Homo sapiens: one gene and its partners. The protein of the gene in region 2 purifies or fractionates together with the protein of the main gene of each other region. This does not show direct contact. Each region holds a gene or a part of one and is shown on either strand. Other genes may lie near its edges.

Region 1 (3,500 bases), on a different chromosome or scaffold from region 2:
TGTGAGCAGTTGTGGGTCCAACTAGAAATGTCTGCATATTCAGGTCGGATTCTTTGCAACCCTCCTCCAGGGGTTCAAAAACATTCATCTGGCCACTCTGCTCAGGGAAAAACATCATTAAGTATCTTTTAATCCCAGTCTTTCCATCCTCAACATTATATATCAACTAGTGATCATTAAAGGTATTTTGATTGAGAATTATGAATACAATAAAATTTTTTAAATAAATGAAACTAAGGCTAATAAAAACTCATTAAAGCATTTTATGGGAAACAATAAACCTTTATTGATGCAATTAGCAGAATCGGGAGATTTTTACCAAGTAATATGAGAGGCCTAACATATATAAGTTAAGACTGGGAACCAAAATATTAAAGCCAATCAGAAATTCCAATATACATATTTAAGTGATTAGCAGATTGTAAGGTTTGCCCTTGAAGAACTAAAACCATTCTGAATCATATACTCTAAGGGATTTTTACTTTGTTTCGTTTTATTTGCTTTGGTTTTCCTTGATTTCTGGAAGTTCTACAGGTCCCAAACCAACAGCACAGGCACTTGGTGATAACTGACAACCCTAACCTCTTAGAAGAATTTCTATTCCTTTGAGGGAATGGGGCATACAGAAGGTTTTTAACAATATTACTTAGTTACTCATGGTACATACGACATCAGGATATTACGTAAAAGGTGAACTAGTATCAGGCTCTGTTTCCTCTTATTTTAAGAAGATTTGTGATCATGAAATATGTGATCCCACAATAGATTTTAATAAACACATTCCAAATAGGCTCATGTAGAAGAAGAAAGGGAGAAGGAGGAGAGGAAGTGGCAGTGATGGGCAATGTCACTTCATTCCGAGTTAAGGAAAGAGAGTCTGGAGTCCCTAGGAGTGTGACAACACATTCTGGAAAGTGTTCTTGACCCAGACACCTTTGATTAAAGGTGTCTGATTTGGAGAGGCAGAAGCTCTCCAAAACTGTGCACCAAACTCATTCCAACAATTATAGGATGATGAGGAGAATGACGCTAAGTCTGGTGGATGAGGCTGGGAACAAGGCTCTGGAAAGGGAACTCATGAGTTACACTGGCTGGGATCACTCTCAGAGGCTGGTTATGTCTTCTGGGAAACTTACACCTGTAATAAGGAAAGCAGGCACCAAAAGGCGATGGCACCTATGTCAACGGAGCTGCCCGTGTGGCTTAATGGAAGCTCAGCTAGTGAAGAATGTGGGCTCTGGAGTCCAAAACTGTGGGTTCATATTTTGGCTGGCTACCTGTAAGCTGCAGAACCCTGGACAAGTTATTTCATCTTCCTAGCTCTCAGTTTCCTCACGTGAAATGAGAATGATAATAACACTACGGGGAGCTGCCGAGAGGTCTGACGAAACGATGCACATGAAGAGCCTGGGCATGGCACCTGCCGCGTGCCCAGAGGGCTCCTTCATTGCTGGGGTGCTTCCCACTCTCAAGAAGAGTGCAGTGGAGCCCAAATCCCTGCACTATCACTTACTAGACAAGTGACCTGGAACAAGTTAGTTAAATTCTTTAAGCCTCAGTTTTCACATCTGTTAAGTGAGGGTCTTAATAGCTCCTTATTGGAGGGTGAGGATTGTTTGCAAAGTACTAGAGCCCAGTGTCTGGCATGTAAGTGCTCAAGAAGTTGCAGCCACTTCCCTCACATTTTCACAGTGATTTCATAATCACAGCTTTTTTTTTTTTTTTTTTTGAGATGGAGTCTCACTCTGTCACTCAGGCTGGAGTGCAGTGGCTCAATCTCAGCTCAATGAAACCTCTACCTCCTGGGTTCAAGCAATTCTCCTACCTCAGCCTCCTTAGTAGCTGGGATTACAGGCATGTGCTACCACGCCCAACTAGTTTTTGTATTTTTAGTAGAGACAGGATTTTGCTATACTGGTCAGGCTGGTCTCGAACTCCTGACCTGCAGTGATCCACCCGCCTTGGCCTCCCAAAGTGCTGGGATTACAGGCATGAGTCACCACGTTCAGCCCGTAACCACAGCTTCTGATAGTCCCAACATTGCTATGATGTCTAAGCAGCAGGATGGATATTATTAATCAACCAATCAATACGTACTTATGGAGCATCTAAGTATTAGTTTCCAAGGTGGCTGTAACAAAGTACCACAAAATGGGTGGTACTCTCTCACAATCTTGAAGATAGAAGTCCAAAGTCAAGGTGTCCACAGGGCTCTGAAGCATCTAGGGAATCCCTCCTTGCCTCTTCCTACCTTCTAAGGTAGGCAGTCTTCGGTTTGTAGCTGCGGATCACCAATCTCTGCTTCCGTTTTCACATGGCTGTCTCCTCTCTGTCTGGGCTTCTCTTCTTCTTATAAGGACAGCAGTGATTTTGGAATTAGGGCTGACCCTACTCCAATATGATCTTATCTAAACTAATTATACCTGCAGCCACCCTATTTCCAAATAAGGTCACATTCCCAGCTTACAGGGATTAAGACTTCAACATGTCTTTTTGGGAGACACAATTCATCCCATAACAACTTCCATGAGCCTTGTCCAAGAAGCATAAGATGGCCAAGGGACTCGAAAGCTAATCAAGTTTATCTCCTTAACTAAATAAAATACTTGATCCAATAGGAGAATAATTAGGTCCTAAATTGTGTGATACTGATAAATTAATAGGAATTTGAAGCAGATTAAAAAAAAACCCATGGTGTGTGCTATCAGAGAAGGTTTCAGGAGAAATCTGGGATCCAAAAATAAGTGGAATTTCAATTAGTATTAGTGGGGCTGAGCAGATCCCAGGAGGCCAGCTCAGCATGAAGGGAAGTCCCAGGCAGGAAGCAGCCAAGCTGGAGCAGGGAGCTCAAAGGAGTGAGCCCTGCATTTACTTGTTAAAAGAACTACTTAGTTTTGGTTGACCAACTTTCCCTTCACTTTCACTCCACACAAGCATTTGAAGGAATTATTTTTTCTGTACCTCTGCTTCCTACTATAGAGACTGGAGACCAGAGACAGAAAGAGAAGGAAAATGAGAGGCAAAACCAGAATATATTTCTAAAACTCCTCTTGAACAGGAAGAAGTCTCAGGAATATAGTCTGCATTTGTATGTTCTCATTAATTAGAATATATCCTCCAGAATTCCTCAGGATCAAAAGCGCATTCATGTATACAGCCCTAAGAGGGATCTATTGCTTAAGAACACATCATTACGCCCGGGTGCGCTGGCTCACGCCTGTAATCCCAGCACTTTGGGAGGCCAAAGCGGGTGGATCACCTGAGGTCAGGAGATCAAGACCATCCTGGCTAACATGGTGAAACCCCGTCTCTACTAATAATACAAAAAATTAGCCAGGCATGGTGGCACACGCCTGTAATCCCAGCTACTCAGGAGGCAGGAGAATCGCTTCAACCTGGAAGGCAGAGGTTGCAGTGAGCCGAGATCGCGCCACTGCACTCCAGCCTGGGCGACAGAGCGAGACTCCATCTCAAAAAACAAAACAAAACAACAAAAACAT
Region 2 (2,205 bases):
ACTTTCTTTTTAGAAAAGATTGCATCATTCTTAGATGGCCATTCCTGGGATGGGCAGAGGGGGCACTCTGTGTGCCCCTTGCCTGCAGTGTGTTGGTGGGAGATACAGTCCCATGGCACATTTTCATCCTGTGACTTTCACCCACAGCTCTGTGGAAATGCTGCCTGGAAGAAAAGCATATCAGGGTACCTTTGGAGAGGTTGTCCTGGGTGGATCCTTAGGGTCTAGAGGTCTCAGCAGAGAGACGAGGGAAAGAAGGAGTGTTCAGGGGTAGTTATGTATTGGGAAATCCAAGCCTTTGTGTGGGTATCTCCTAGTTCATATGGAACCCAAGAATTCTCAACTATTCTCGAGGACTCTGCTTGGACCTTGTAAGGATCCGTGCCTTCCTGGATAGCTGAAACTCGGTGTCAGTCACATTTTCAACAGCTTTTATTGGGTACCCGCCTCTGCGTCTTGTATTGTCATAGCAGTTTACACACAGCAAGCCAGACCAGGAGTGAAGAATTCATGTCATTTGTTATTTTCTTTTATTTGTGAATATGTGTGGGGTTGGGAGACTGGGTGCTAGACATGAGCTGAGGTCCAGGCTAGGCACAGGGAGCTGACAGCTGCAGGACATGCTAATTGGTCTGGGAAGGCCTTTGGAATCTAGGGAATTGGCTTTCTGAGCTGAGGCGGGGTCCAGGCAAGGAGGCAACAGGCTGCAGGAATCACAAAGGGACCGGGGACCTCCATGTACCCAATATCTAGGTCTCATCAGTCGGAGAAACATTCTCAGCTCTTGGTGACCTTGTCCTCCCTCAACACGGTACTCACTGCATATGGACTCATTTGACAATTGCCACAAAGGCTTTGGCCTCAGAGGCACTTTAAGGATATAACAGTAGGAAAGGGAGGCTTGGGGAGCCAGAGAGTCACCCACACAAAGCCCCACACGTGTTCCTAGCAGAACCAGGATACACACCCAGGCTTCCTGAGGCCACATGTCCTCCCTGTGGCTGCCTGGTCATTCCCCTTCACCTAGCAGCTGTCTTGCTCCCATGTAGAACAGCAGGGCCCAGCGGCCACCTGCACCTCGCCATTTCCTCCAGCTCTGTGCTAGAAATGATGCAAGCAGGAAAATCATTTGCTTGTGGACCTACTATGTGTCAGGCACCTGCTGAACAGTAGCATTTGATGCTCTCGACGGCCTTAACAGGTCGGCACTGATCTGTTGATGCTGCAGTCGAGGAGCTTTAGCTTAGAGAGGTTAAATAGCATCCTCAAAGTCACCCAGGTCATGCTCTGCTTCTGGAGGGGCTGGGATGCAGCATGGGAGTGTGACCTCCTGCGCACGGACTGCACGGGCCGCCTCGCAGCCGGCATGGTGAGGTGAGATGAGTTGAGGTAAGCTCGCAGCTCCTTGGTGCCAGCCCTTCCACAACCAGAGCTGGGCGGCAGCAGGCTCTTCCCCAGCTTACCTGGGCAAGAGAGTGAGGACTGCACGGCTGGCGAGTGATACATGGAGAGTGTTGCCGCCTGCCTGACAGGCAGAAGATAAACAGCTCCCCGTTAAATCTCGCTTAATGCTGATATTTATAAATTTATTCAGCTTGTGTTTACCGAATCAAGAGAATGCCTAATAACATAACATGCTTCATCTCACATGTTCCTACTAATGAGAATGCAAGTATTGCTTTTTTTTTTTTTTTAACATTTCATTTGCTTTCCACTCACTCCACCCTGTTCTGTTGTTGTTGGCTTAGAGTTTAATCTGTTGCTAAACACTGGGAAGTCTGGGCTTCTCGGGTGTTAGTGAGGAGAGAGCCAAGGTGGGTCTGGGGCAGTGGCTGGACCAAGGCCTCCAAACTGTGCCCTGTCCTACATGCAGTGCTTGGTGGACATGGAGTTGGCATACCCAAAGGATGGGCCATACTGAGGGAAAATGAAAGTCCTGGTGTCCTCTGCTGTATTTTGGGGTGGCTTCGTGCATTGGGTCAGGGTTGCAGTATTTGGGGGCTTCGGGACAAAAAATTTAGAGTAGAGCAGTGTCCTTGGCTTTGGACAGACAGGAGGATGGACAGAATGACCAAGGAAACATAAGCAACATTTGTGGGGTGTGGTATAGCTGGGTGTGAGGATGAGTGTGTGAGAGGGGTGGAGGGCTCCGTCTCTACCTTTGTTTAATCTGCTTACTGAGTTATTGGTTTTGTTTTTTGTTTT
Region 3 (3,500 bases), on a different chromosome or scaffold from region 2:
CAAATCAGAACTAGTTATTTTGAAAGCTAACTACAAATAGTGAATGTTTAAAATGTCCTGTGTGTCTTCAAACAGAGCAATTATCAATATACAAGTTTATATTTCAAGAAACCTGCTAACGTATTACTCTTCAGAAGATAATGATACACATAAATTGTAAGTGTTTCCTGGAAAAGCTATGCTATTTCACCATTTAAAAATTATGGCCAGGCGCAGTGGCTCACGCCTGTAATCCCTGCACTGTGGGAGGCTGAGGAGGGTGGATCACCTGAGGTCAGGAGTTCGAGACCAGCCTGGCCAACATGATGAAACCCTGTCTCTACTAAAAATACAAAAAATTAGCTGAGCATGGTGGCGTGCACCTGTAATCCCAGATACTCAGGAGGCTGAGGCAGGAGAATTGCTTGAACCTGGGAGGCGGAGGCTGCAGTGAGCCAAGATCGTGCCACTGCACTACAGTCTGGACAACAAGAACAAAACTCCATCTCAAAAAAAAAGAAAAGAAAAGAAAAATTATATGCTGACTGAAGTTGAACTTTCCCTTCAGTAAGACTTGAAAACACCATATTATATACATTTATCTACTGAGGTAGCTTCCCCCAAAATAAATGAACTATTGCCTTATAGTATTGTTATTATTATCATTACCTTTTATGGGTTCTGTTTTGTCTTTGCCTGTGAATACCGGAGGTTTTGATACTAGTATAGGAACAGTCATGTCTTTTGGCTTTGGTGGAGGTGGCATAATTTCAACTTTGGGTGAAGGAGGCAATATAGCTCCTGTCTGCTTTTCCAAATAGTTGAGGATATCTTCTTTAAGTATTCTGCCATCTTTTCCTGAGCCAACAACTTCACTCAGCTTAATCTAAAAAATGATATATTTTAATGCCAAAAATACAACTATTTAAAAACATCATTAAAGTTTCAAAATGGAATTTGATCAACTGACAGTAAAATATATCTGTCCAATAAATTAGTAAAAGGAAATAACCTTTTCATTTTCTACTTAAGTAATCATTACTTTTGTATATACTGTTCACATATGCATGTGGTAACCATCAGGTATCTATATTATATATAATCTAGAGCTATTTATGAAAACTTACTTTTTAAAAAAATTTTTTGTAGAGACAGGGTCTCACTCTGTTGCCCTGGCTGGTCTTGAACTCCTAGCCTCAAGCTATCCTCTCACCTCAGCCTCCCAAAAGTGCTGGAATTACAGGCGTGAGCCACTATGCCCAGCTGAAAACTTACATTTTTATACTCAAGTATTTTAAAATCTCTTGCATAATTCTTACTCGACCTTTTCTATTCTTGGGGACTACATAAGAAGAGGGAGAGCTGAGAATTTAAGAGAAACTAAATGCTATACCAAATTTAGACCAATGTTTCTGACACTGGCTACCAGTTAAAAACGTAACAACTTAAATAATCATAATACAAAAGCTCTCTCAAATTAGTTATTTTTCTGGTAGTTGCTTTGGAAAGATCAGTACAAAACATTTAATTCTATTTAAATAAAAATAAACATAAAAGCTTGGAATGATCTCCTCATATATAGTATGTATTAATTTCTTAGGGATAGGCCCCATTTCATTTGTATTAGTGCATCTCTAAGGATGACTAAAATAATAAAGGACTTTACTAAGGCAAACACTAAGTTTGTAACAAATGGACTATGAAAATTTAAACAAATAATTTTTAGGCAGTTACAAACAACTGTAAATGCCACTGGTTCTTAATTTTAAACAAACTCAATTCATAAATATGCAAATTCAAAGAAAAAAGATGATTTCTGATAACTAAATCCAATATTTAATTTTTAGTAATCATACAAGCACTCTACCCAAGTATTCTATACCCATCTTTAGGGAGTGTTTTAGGAAAGCCAAATCATACATTTCTTCTATATATTTCTTTCTATATTATTAAGAAAAAAATTATTAAAATGCTTTATAGATTTCAAAGCAAAATGTTAAATCATTATTTCATCTGATGCCCTTAATAACCTAATGTTCCACGTTACTATATCTATTTTCTGTTATGCTAAATGGTCTTCATACTTAAACACATTTAAGGGTTACATAACATTTTATCAAGGATACATAACATAATTTGAATGTGTATGCATCTTCTAATTTTTGGCTATATAAAATACAAGGAAGAATGATTCCTAGATTATTTTCTTGGGATAGTTCCCCAGTGGCAGGATAACTGGCTGAAAGAATATGAACATTTTAATGACTCTATTACATATTTCACAAAATATAAACTTTTATTTTTTTCCCACAGCAACCTTACTTTTCTCAAAAAGAGACAAACAAAAAGTCTCATTGTGGGGCACAGTGGAAAGTATTCAGGTTTCAGAACCAGACAGATTTGTGTTCAAATCCCTAGTTCAGCTTACTTGGTTTTAGATAAGTTAATCAACCTGCCTGCAGGGTCCTTGTGAGGATTACAGATGTGTCTATAGTGTCTGGCACATATGTGCTCAAATAATGGAGGCAATGATTGTTGAGGTTTATATAACATCTAACAGCACAGGTTTTGGAGTGATATAGACTCACTTTTGAATTCTGGCTCTTGCTATGTTAGCTGTGTGACTTTAGACTAGTTACTTAAACCCTCCAAGTCTTAAAATAGCTCCTTATCTTACAGGGTTAAATGAGAATACGTAAATACCTATCCCAGTGCCAGGGAGCCACCCTGCCTGGCATTCCACCTTCCATTCAGTCAATGACTGGCAGAGGAAATACAAAAGGCCGGCCTCCTTGCCTCAAAGCAGTAATTCTGTGGTTCTCCCTTGCACCCTCAGATCAGGCCAGAGTCTTTCTTTTTTTACTTAGGACCATGGCAAGCTTTGGGACAGGCCAGATGCTTGATACCATAACCATGTCTGGCCAATTTCCCTTCTCTTCTCTTTTTTATCTTGCTTCCTTCAGTCCCTTTACAGGTTTTCCCTCCTTCAAATTCCTATCTCATGCTGTGCCTCTAGAGCACCTGACATAAGACCTGGTATTTACAAGTGCTCAGTAAATGGTAGCTCTTACTGTTATTAGGCTCTAAGAAAGAATAATAAAATCATACTGCTCAATTGATAGTAAGTAATAAGTTTACAACTTCTCATTTCTCCCATGTATTTTTATGCAACTATTGCTTTTCAGTAGCAAATATCTTCATGTTTCCTTAATTTCATTGAGCTATTTCATCATGGGATAGTTGGCTAATTTTTCAGAGATACAAATGTACACTTCCTATACAATCTCAGACTTAAATATTAAGAGAACTTACATTGTTTTCCATTGCCAGACGGCGAACTGCAGGAGTTGCCAGTGTTTTTCGGCCCTTTATCTCTTGGTGTGTATGTTCATCATGAGACACTGCAGGAGTTTCAACAACATCTTCTTCTGAATCTGGTAACAAGGTAAAACTTAACTTCAGTTGAAAAAAAATTTTTTTTTTTTACTAAGATGTAAAGTAAGGCCACTAAGATGTGGCCT
Region 4 (3,121 bases), on a different chromosome or scaffold from region 2:
GCAACTTCCACCTCCTGGGTTCAAGCGATTCTCCTGCCTTGGCCTTCAAGTAGCTGGGATTACAGGTGCCTGACACCATGCCTGGCTAATTTTTATATATTTTTTAGTAGAGACAGGGGTTCACCATGTTGGCCCATGCTGGTCTCAAACTCCTGACCTCAGGTGACTGCCAGTCTCAGCCTCCCAAAGTGCTGGGATTAGAGGCATGAGCCACCATGCCCAGCGAATACAGATCTTTTTGTACACCCTTCTACACAATCACATGCTCCAAGAAACACCATGTCCTTTTCTTCCTCTCCTGTAAGACAAAATTTTAAGAAGAAAATTTGTCTGAGGAATCAGTCCTCCGCCAGTCCTTATTTGCAATGTCTGGCTAACTGTCAACCTGTGGGTCCGTCTCCCAACCTACAGGACCTCATATCCCTCCCTTCTCAAATGCCTACCTCTTCCCTTCCCTTCCCCACCCCACACCAGACAACAGGCAGAGATAAACACAGTCATCAGCTCCTTAAACTTGATTTTATTGTAATCATCGCCATCAGTGGTGATGATTTGTCCAATTTGGTTTCTCCATGTGTGACTAATCCTCCCCACTGTCCTGTGAAGATCCTTCAGATAAGCCTAGGTCTTCATCCTCCTGTGAGGATCCTTCAGATGAGTCTAGATCTTTGTCCTCCTTTGAAGGTCCTTCACATGGGCCTAGGTCTTCATCCTCATTTGAAGATCCTTCAGATAAGTCTACGCCTTCGTCCTCCTCCTTTTGGATTGGATTGATGGAGTTCTCTTGGGACTGTTCATTCTCCAGTTGATTTGAATTTATTTTCTTACCCTTCCTGAGGTAATACACAAATATTATTGGATATTCTGATGTTTTTGTGTTCTTCAAACTCTGTTCGGGGGCTAAGACTCTGTTTGGTACCTCTTGCATCTGGTAAGAAAATAGGGAGAGGCCAGAAAGACATTATTTTGGGTGAATAGGATAGAGACTAGATAGCAAGGGGGGCTTTATGAGAAGGAATGCAGGTGGAGGAAGGGGTGTGTGCCAGAGAAGAACAAGGTGAAATCATAGGGTAGGTATCTATGCAGAAGAAGAAGAGGAGCATGGGTAGAGTCACCTGTTAGTCCAAACTGCATGATTTTGTAAGTTTTTGCTATGTTGCAGACCTTGGTCAAAGTGAAACATTCCATGGGGGTTCAGGCCATGAGCAACATCCTGCCTAACCACCTGACCACAAGGTGGACAAAGGCTCAACTAAAGAAACATCCCTATCATAAGTCCTGTTCCCCTTATTCTTTCATCTTCTCCAGCCCTGGGCTAACCTCCAGATATTGATTAAACTCTCCATCTTATTTTTCCTTCATTCCCCTTTCCAGGCAGCTGCAAAGGAACACCACAATGATATTCCACTGGAAAAAGGGCCAAACCACCTGATCATAAGAACATCTTATCAATATCCTCCTGGGCAGCAAGCCATACTGCCCAGCTCCCTCCCACCCATACCTGTAAGTACCCCAGGCTATAAGCGGCAGTGGGCTCTGGCATTAAGCTGGTCCCCCACTTCCACAGGTGTCTGCAATATTCCTGTGTTGTTGTTTGAGATGCACCCTCTCTGTCTGTCTTTCTTTCACCCTCATCTTCCCTTCAAAACCTAACACTTTGGTGCCAAAACCCAGGACGGTGATTGGGTTCTAATGGGTAAGTTTTCTCTTGCAACCTGGAAAGCAGAAAGCAGCAAGCAGCACAAACTAGACCGGGGCCTACTTCCAGATCCTGAGTGGACTGTCTGTTCCCAGTCCTGTTTCCCCTATTCTCTCATCTTCTCCAGCCCTGGACTAACCTCCAGATATTGATCAAACTCTCCATCTTATTTTTCCTTCCTTCCCCTTCCCAAGCAGCTGCAACCAGGATCACCCCCATTGCTGGACATCACATCCAACACTGGGCTTCAATTCGTGGGTGAGTCTCCCTATTCTTCCTTTCTGGATTCCTTTCTATTTCTGCTTGTTCTCCAAAAAAATTCCAGTGCTGGGTGAGAGGTCTCCCCAGTCACCAGGTGACTGCAGCCTCCCTTCTCAGGGGACAGCCTCAGAACACTTGCCATTCTGGCCGCTCCGTCCTCTGGGGAGCATGAATAGCTATGGGGCTGTCCCAACTCTCCAGGTCCCTTCTCCCAGGTGGAATCCAGTACTCACTTTCCTCTGGGGTATTCACTTCCCTCTGGAGAACTCACTCCCCTCTGGGGTATTCACTCCCTTCTGGGGTACTCACTTTCCCCAGAGTATTCACTCCCATCCAGAGTATTCACTCCCCTCTTCTAAAAAACAAAACATTCAACTTTCAAATTCAACATCATCTAAAAATCTTTCTCCAACACAATGGTAAATGATCTGAAGTGCTTTGCTTATCTCCGCTCATGCCTCACTCACTCTCCTGCCAATCTTGTTCACCTTTTCAAATCTTCCTCCTCAAGGAGAAACCCCCCAAAATGCCTCCTCCTCGGGACAAGCCTTCCTCCTCTGAATTTCAACCTGGCCAACAAACCCCTTCGTCTGGCTCCTGCCCTCTCCCATTCCCTCCACCTTCTCCTTCGGATCCGGCTCCTCCACCCCCTTACTGTCACCCTCCATCCCCCTTCCTTCTCCACCTCAAACCAGGTCTCACGCCCAACGCTCTTTTGCCGAAAACCAGACACATGCCCAAAGGCCTTCCAAAGTCTTTCCCTTGCAGGAGGTTGCAAGGACTGAAGGCATAATCTGAATTCAAGTTCCCTAGCTGACTTCTCCCATACTGAAAAGAGACTTTGCTCCTTTTCAATGGATCCTACCTCCTTCCTCAAGGAATGTCTGTACTTCCCTAAATCTTATGACCTTACCTGGCATGACATATATGTCATCCTCTCCTCTACCCTCACCCTGGAGGACAGGGAACACATATTTACGGGTGCCCAGGTCCATGAGAACACCCTCCACCAACAAGATGCTGCTCATAACCCAGTAGGGACCCTAGCTGTCCCCAGAACTGACCTCAATCGGAATTATCAGGCAACTTCTGTAGACAGGCAGAAACCAGGCCATATGATATCATGCCTTCTAGCTGGCATAAATAAAGTCGCCCCTGCTC
Region 5 (3,500 bases), on a different chromosome or scaffold from region 2:
TAATCCCAGCTACTCGGGACACTGAGGCAGGAGAAATGCTTGAACCCGGGAGGCGGAGGTTGCGATGAGCCAAGATCATGACATTGCACTCCAGCCTGGGCAACAAGAGTGAAACTCCTTCTCATAAAAAAAAAAGATTGTTTGCCGGGCGTGTTGCCTCATGCCTATAATCCCAACACATTGAGAGGTCAAGGCAGGCAGATTACCTGAGGTCAGGAGTTCTAGACCAGCCTGGCCAACATGGTGAAACCTGTCTCTACTAAATATACAAAAAAAAAAAAAAAAAAAAAATTGGCCAGGCGTGGTGACACACGTCTGTAATCCCAGCTACCCTGGAGGCTGAGGCAGGAGAATAGCTTGAACCTGGGAGGCAGAGGTTGCAGTGAGCCGAGATTGTGCCACTGCACTCCAGCCTGGGCAACCGAGCTAGACTCCGTCCCCCCCCCACAAAAAAAGAAAAGAGTGTTAGTGATAAGATGCATGTTTTTGTTTATCTTATGTATGTGAATGTTATATTTATATGGCTGTTTGCCCATAGAAAATAAGTGTCGGCTGGGCATGGTGGCTTATGCCTGTAATCCCAGCCCTTTGGGAGGCCGAGGCGGGCAGATCACTTGAGGTTAGGAGTTTGAGACCAGCCTGGCCAACATGGTGAAACCCTGTCTCTGCTAAAAATACAAAAATTATCTGGGTATGGTGGCGTGTGCCTGTAATCCCAGCTACTCAGGAGACTGAGGCAGGAGAATCGCTTGAACTGGGGAGGTGGAGGTTGCAGTGAGCCGATATTGTACCACTGCACTCCAGTCTGGGTGACAGAGTAAGACTCTGTCTCAAAAAAAAAAAAAAAGGAAAAAGAAAAGAAGTATCAAGGAGAAAGCCACAGAATGGAAGATATGACAAAATACTGGGGTTAAATGATAGCTGTAATATATTTTTAAAATTGATATAAATACATAATCCCACTTGATAAATAATCAAAGCTGAGGAATAAGGAAACCTGGTAAAGGAAAGGCGGTAAATCATCACAAAGAAAAATGCCGTCTGCTGGCTTGGAAATCCAGGCCGTTTCAAATGACCCGTGTTAGATGAGGTGGAGCAAGTGTCCACAGAGTCAATGGCAGTCCTCTAGGGCCTGTCTTTAGGAGCCGGTTTGGAGTAATAAAAGGCAGCCCTCTGCTGAGCTCCTGTGTCGTGCCTGCTAGGTATTACGTACACTCTTTTCCTCAGCATTCCCGAGGCAAGTGGGCGTTACCCTCATATGACAGGCAGAGAAGCAGGCCTGAGTGGTTATGAGGCAGTGAGGTGTGTTTCCTTGGGCAAGTTGCTTAGCTTCTCTGAGCCTCAGTAGCTCCTCTGTCTGTTAAATGGGATCATGAAAACCCTTCACCATAAGCTGCACAAGCGCAAGAACACTAAGGCCCACCCCAAAGAGAAGGCCAAGCAGCAGGTGCTTGCAGAGCCTGAGATTCCTATGGACCCAGCAGCGACTCCCACCCTCGCCTGGGCTGTGAGCCACCTGGCTGATGCCCCTGCACCTCTGATGGCACTGAGACAAAGGAGAGATCTTGTCTTGGGTGTCTTGGGACTGTACCCATCGTCCCAGCCTGAGCCCAACTTGATGGAAGCTAGAAAAGTCATGCCATCCTTTTTTGTGTAATTCTTTCTTGGTGGGGAAATTCTGAGGTAACATTTTATGCCTGCTAATAGAGCCAAAAAAAAGTGTAAAGCCCATTGTTAGTAGAACGGTGGGGAAACAGCATTGCTTACATATCTCTAGCACTATAAATGTTGTTACAGGACAAACTAATAAAATATAAACAGTGATTAAGTTTTCATATACTTAGGCCCAGGAATTCCATATATTGAAATAGGGCACTTTCCTATGCATTCACTGGGTGGAGAGAAATTTTTAAATAAAGGCCTCAATGAAATAAGTCACCAAATTAGAAAGTAATTGATAGAAACATGTATTCATAATGCTGCCATTTATAGTTCTAAGGATTGGAAACCACCCAAATACCCAAAATAGAAAGCTAGCTAAACAAATAGGTAGACAATATCACTAATATAAGATGGGGCCCTACGCCGGGCATGGTGGCTCACGTCGGTAATCCCAGCACTTTGGGAGGCCTAGGTGGGTGGATCACCTGAGGTCAGGAGTTCGAGACCAGCCTGGCCAACATGATGAAACCCCATCTCTACTAAAAAGACAAAAAATTAGCGGGGCGTGGTGGCGGGTGCCTGTAATCCCAGCTACTCAGGAGGCTGAGTCAGGAGAATCACATGAACCCGGAAGGTGGAGGTTGCAGTGAGCTGACATTGCGCCATTGCACTCCAGCCTGGGCAGCATGAGTGAAACTCTGTCTCAAAAAAAAAGATGGGGCCCCATGGAGCTGTTTAAATGACAGTCATTTTGGTGGAAATGTTTATATGAGGGAATGTTACCTGTAAGAAGCAAAATATAAAATAGATTGCTCATATCAGTCACATCCGTGTATGTCTATTGATGAAGAGGAAAGGAAATTTGGACTGATAAGTAATTCATCATTTACTATTCTTTTGAATTTTCATCTCCATGAAGTTGCTTCTGTTCCTGATTTTCTTTTTTTTGAGACGGAGTCTCACTGTGTCACCCAGGCTGGGGTGCAGTGGCATGATCTTGGTTCACTACGACCTCTGCCTCCAGGGTTCAAGCAATTCTCCAGCCTCAGACTCGCGAGCAGCTGGGATTACAGGCATGTGCCACCATGCCCGGCTAATTTTTGTATTTTTAGTAGAGATAGGGTTTCACCATATTGGCCAGGCTGGTCTTGAACCCCTGACCTCAGGTGATCCGCCCGCCTTGGCCTCCCACAGTGCTGGGATTACAGGCGTGAGTCACTGTGCCTGGCCCCTGATTTTCTCTATAAAGGAGAGAATTGCCACATTCTTGTCATGAGACTTTATGACTTTTCCAAATTTCTGTGTGCGGGCATGACGCTGCCCAGGCAGGTGGCAAGCTCGCCAAGGACCAGGCTTAACAGAAAGCCTTTGGGACTTGACCCACTGCTCTTTGCTCAGCTTGTGATGGGAGAAGATTTTACTAAGTTGCACTGGAAGAGCTGGCTCTTCCCTTCCTCTTCACAGCTTCTCCCCTGCTTTCTAGGAAGATCAGCCCATCTACTTGGCAGTGAAGGGAGTGGTGTTTGATGTCACCTCCGGAAAGGGTAAGTGGTGTGGCATTTTGAATCTTCATTTCCAGGGAGCACAGAAGCCAGAGTGAGCAGCACTTGGAGGTGTGAGGAAAGGGAGGGAACATTAGGCAAGTCCTTTTCATTCCATTTTATTTTATTTTATTTTTTGAGACGGAGTTTCACTCTGTCACCCAGGCTGGAGTGCGGTGGCACGATCTTGGCTCACTGCAACCTCTGCCTTCTGGGTTCAAGCAATTCTCTGCCTCAGCCTCCCGAGTAGCTGGGATTACAGGCACCACCACCACCGCTGGCTAATTTTTTTGTATT
Region 6 (3,500 bases), on a different chromosome or scaffold from region 2:
AAGCAACTCTCTAGTGAGAGGCAGGGCTGTTCGTTGGCTAGACAGGTTCTCCACACTCTCCACCCTCACCCGCACCCCTGCACCAGGCAGGATGACAGAGAACCACCAATAGATAGCTGCTTGGCTAGGCTCACGCCCTTCTGCCAGGCTTCTCCAAATAAGGGCCACTGGAAGAAAAGTGTCTCTGCCTCATCTGCAGAACTGCAGATCAACTCTGCCCACTGAGCCCTCCGGCCCGAGTTAGGGCTTTGTGAGTCACATACCTTCCAGAACGCAAGCCGGAGTAGGTGTCGGGGGAATGGGCTCTCTCACGGTAACCACTCCTAACGGCCCCAACACATTTGTAGTCTTCATCTGTTCTTTATGGAGCCGGAATCATGAAGCCCCCTGACCCTTAGGCAACTTGCTTTTATCACCTGGTGAGTTCTTAAGGAATCCTGCTTTGGTTTATTTATGTATTTGCCTGTGTTTTACAAAGCTGTATCCCTCATTAGAGATATCTCTACTGCAAGCAAAGTGCCCTGACAGCATGTGGGTCTTCTCAGCCTTCAGACACGTGGTGCCAGGGATGCAAACCACGCTGTGAGAGCCGGGGCGGGCAAGCGGGCCGGTGGGAGCCTCACCTATGCGCCCCAGCCCGATGATGCCGACAGTGCTCTGCGTGAGTCCATAGCCACACAGCCAGAGGGGCTTCCACGAGGTCCAGCCACCACTGAGGGGAGAGAGAGGGGCAGGTGAGAGGCCCAGCCTTGGACCAAGATGGGGGCCGCTGAGAACCCGGCACCTCTGACTGTGGTCCAAGGTATAAACCCACCCTCCAGGTCACGGACTGAGAGTGGGATGAGGCACTGCCACTCGGCACTGCAGATGAGCAGCAGAAACGACTCCACCTTTAAAGCCACCAGAGACATAGAACTTGAGGGCGGGAAGGGGCCTTACTGGCTCTCATCCTGTTTTGCAGATGGGAAAACAAACCAGAAAGGGTGACTTGCCTGAGGTCACACAACCAGGGAAGAGTTGAGAGCAACAGGCTGCAAACTCAGGATTTATGATTCCAAAACAAGTTCTCTTGGCACTTTAGGGCAGCAACAAAGAGTACAGCCACAGGGCCCACCCTGCTGCCCTGGGCAAGAGATGGAGCCTGCCCTGAGCCACCTCCAGTAGATGTGATGACTCCCCAGACAGGACAGTGAGCAGGACTCAGCACTGTCTACTCTGCTCCATGCCCCGTGCCGGGGCCCACGCTGCTGGCCACGCACTGTGAGAGCCTGCGTTTGCACGCCTCCCACCTTGACTCGGGCCAGTCCCTCCATCTGCACATGGAATGCTTCCCCCAACTTTTTTTTTTTTTTTTTTTGGAGACAGGGTCTTGCTGTGTCGCCCAGACTGGAGTACAGTGACATGATCTCGGTTCACTGCAGCCTCTGCCTCCTGGGTTCAAGCAATCCTCCCACCTCAGCCTCCCGAGTAGTTGGGACTACAGGCGTGTAACACCACGCCTGCCTAATTTTTGTATTTTTTGTAGAGACAGACTTTTGCCACATTGCCCAAGCTGTTCTCCAACTCCTGAGGCTCAAACAATCTGCCCGCCTCGGCCTCCCAAAGTGCTGGGATTACAGGTGTGAGCCACCGTGCCCGGCCAACTCTAACTCTTGATATACAGGCCGAAATCCCTGATCTGAAACCTTCAGGCTAGATTTTAAAACTGTTTGGCCTTTAGAAAGGCAGCATGGCGCACGTGGTAGATTCCACACATCACCCTCTGCAGTGTCTGGGCAGCAGCCTGTTTTAAAAGTGTTACATCTGCAGCAAAACTTAGGAAAGTCACATTAAATGGGAGAAATAAAAGCCTTAAATAGTCTCCTGTTAGTATGAAAGAACTTTCAGCTGTCCGAGCTTTTTAGATTTTGGGATCTAAGGGATGGTGGACCTGCAGCTTTCAGGACTCAAGCGGACGCCCACCTGCTACTTATTCTGTGAAGCCCTCCCTGATCCACACTCTCCCTGCCAGCCCTCACCCACCAGCAGAACTTGTTTGTCCTCCCTCATCCTCTTCTCTCACCACTTCCCTTTCTGCCCTTATTGCAGCTCTGCTTTGTGCTTTATTTTAGCTGAGTCCTCACTCAATGGGGCACACCTGGGGTCAGGGACTATGCGTGGGCTGGACTGGCACAGTGATCAGGATCCAGTGCTGAGCAGAGCCAACGTTCCTGCCAGGCGTTCACTTATTTTTCTTTTTTTTTTTGAGACAGAGTCTCACACCGTCACCTGGGCTGGAGTGCAATGGTGTGATCTCAGCTCACTGCAACCTCTGTCTCCTGGGTTCACATGATTCTCCTGCCTCAGCCTCCCAAGTAGCTGGGATTACAGGGACCCACCACCACACCCAGCTAATTTTTTTTGTATTTTTACTAGAGACGGGGTTTCACTATGTTGGCCAGACTGGTCTCGAACTCCTAACCTCATGATCCGCTCACTTTGGCCTCCCAAAGTGCTGGGATTACAGCCGTGAGCCACCGCACCTGGTCTGCGTTCACTTACTTCTTCACTTCCTCGATGGCCTCCGGCAACCGGCGGCAGGTGGTAAGTAGCAGGGAGACTGCGAGTTCGGCGGTGGTATCTGTCAGGACATCTGGGGTGTAGCCAACTCGGATCCCACTACGAATCAGACATCTGGTGGTAACATCAGCCTCAACCATATTTACCAATGTCTACTGCTGGGACATTTCCATGGAGTTACTTTGCTCCCTCTTTGATCTGCCTGCCAGGAAGCTCAGAACTATAAATGAGCACTCAAAAACGGGCAGTCCTCATTCCTATTTAGATTATCTCCCACTTTGGAAGGATATGAAGATGGAAGATCAGGGTTCAGGGACTGAACAAGTAACTTAACCTTTCTGAATTTCCTCATCTGAAACAGAAAGAATAACACCTGCCTTTGCTACTTCAAGGTATTGTTGTGGGGATCAAAAAAGATAATGAATGTGAAAGGGTGCCACCTACACAGAAGTTACCCACTGTTTCTGACTGCTGGGGTTTATTGTAACTGACCTGTGCACATGTGGACAGATTCTATCATCAGCCACCTCACATTCTCCCTGAATGGCCGAGGGATATGCAGTAAAAACAAATCAACAGCTCTTCTTTCTCTCATAGCCACCCCTCTCTCTAGGCCCCCTCCAGATCCCAAGCTGCAGTTACCGCTTCTTGATTTCATCCAAAGCCAAGTGGTCGATGCCCACAGACATGGTGCTGATGACTTTGAGATTGGCCCCTGTTGTGCAGAAAGTGCATTGTTAGTATCTTTCCTCGAGGAACTCAAAGCCACAGCACTGGGGACTATCATGGGGACACCGCTTATTATTGTTTTCTTAGAATAAGAGGCTGACATCTCTGTTCTTCAGTTAAAACTCTGAATAATCCCCTTTGACAGCCTCAGACACTGCAGTTCAGGGAGGTTAAGTGGCCTGGCTCAGTCACAGGCAGAGCCGGGTTCACCT

What was found.
Region 1: the proteins of FAHD2A (region 2) and MSRB2 fractionate together in Homo sapiens (co-fractionation; one large-scale study listed by BioGRID). This does not show direct contact.
Region 3: the proteins of FAHD2A (region 2) and DBT purify together in Homo sapiens (affinity purification with mass spectrometry; 3 studies listed by BioGRID and IntAct, with this or other methods). This does not show direct contact.
Region 4: the proteins of FAHD2A (region 2) and SPANXN3 purify together in Homo sapiens (co-immunoprecipitation; one large-scale study listed by IntAct). This does not show direct contact.
Region 5: the proteins of FAHD2A (region 2) and NENF fractionate together in Homo sapiens (co-fractionation; one large-scale study listed by BioGRID). This does not show direct contact.
Region 6: the proteins of FAHD2A (region 2) and GRHPR fractionate together in Homo sapiens (co-fractionation; one large-scale study listed by BioGRID). This does not show direct contact.

Annotation. Positions count from the first base shown.
Region 1 is NC_000010.11:23,112,579-23,116,078, reverse strand, and holds part of MSRB2 (methionine-R-sulfoxide reductase B2, mitochondrial precursor), read right to left. Parts: intron 1-3,500. UniProt on the Homo sapiens protein: Methionine-sulfoxide reductase that specifically reduces methionine (R)-sulfoxide back to methionine.
Region 2 is NC_000002.12:95,414,912-95,417,116, reverse strand, and holds the end of FAHD2A (oxaloacetate tautomerase FAHD2A, mitochondrial), read right to left. Parts: 3' UTR 501-2,205; downstream 1-500. UniProt on the Homo sapiens protein: Tautomerase that converts enol-oxaloacetate, a strong inhibitor of succinate dehydrogenase, to the physiological keto form of oxaloacetate. It is thereby required to maximize aerobic respiration efficiency by preventing succinate dehydrogenase inhibition.
Region 3 is NC_000001.11:100,215,335-100,218,834, forward strand, and holds part of DBT (lipoamide acyltransferase component of branched-chain alpha-keto acid dehydrogenase complex, mitochondrial isoform 1 precursor), read right to left. Parts: intron 3,414-3,500; coding exon 3,292-3,413; intron 866-3,291; coding exon 649-865; intron 1-648. UniProt on the Homo sapiens protein: The branched-chain alpha-keto dehydrogenase complex catalyzes the overall conversion of alpha-keto acids to acyl-CoA and CO(2).
Region 4 is NC_000023.11:143,508,235-143,511,355, forward strand, and holds the end of SPANXN3 (sperm protein associated with the nucleus on the X chromosome N3), read right to left. Parts: intron 929-3,121; coding exon 581-928; 3' UTR 501-580; downstream 1-500.
Region 5 is NC_000001.11:212,439,420-212,442,919, forward strand, and holds part of NENF (neudesin precursor), read left to right. Parts: intron 1-3,145; coding exon 3,146-3,206; intron 3,207-3,500. UniProt on the Homo sapiens protein: Acts as a neurotrophic factor in postnatal mature neurons enhancing neuronal survival. Promotes cell proliferation and neurogenesis in undifferentiated neural progenitor cells at the embryonic stage and inhibits differentiation of astrocytes.
Region 6 is NC_000009.12:37,425,696-37,429,195, reverse strand, and holds part of GRHPR (glyoxylate reductase/hydroxypyruvate reductase), read right to left. Parts: intron 3,275-3,500; coding exon 3,202-3,274; intron 2,659-3,201; coding exon 2,542-2,658; intron 713-2,541; coding exon 624-712; exon of another isoform or gene 355-623; coding exon of another isoform or gene 264-354; intron 1-263. UniProt on the Homo sapiens protein: Enzyme with hydroxy-pyruvate reductase, glyoxylate reductase and D-glycerate dehydrogenase enzymatic activities. Reduces hydroxypyruvate to D-glycerate, glyoxylate to glycolate, oxidizes D-glycerate to hydroxypyruvate.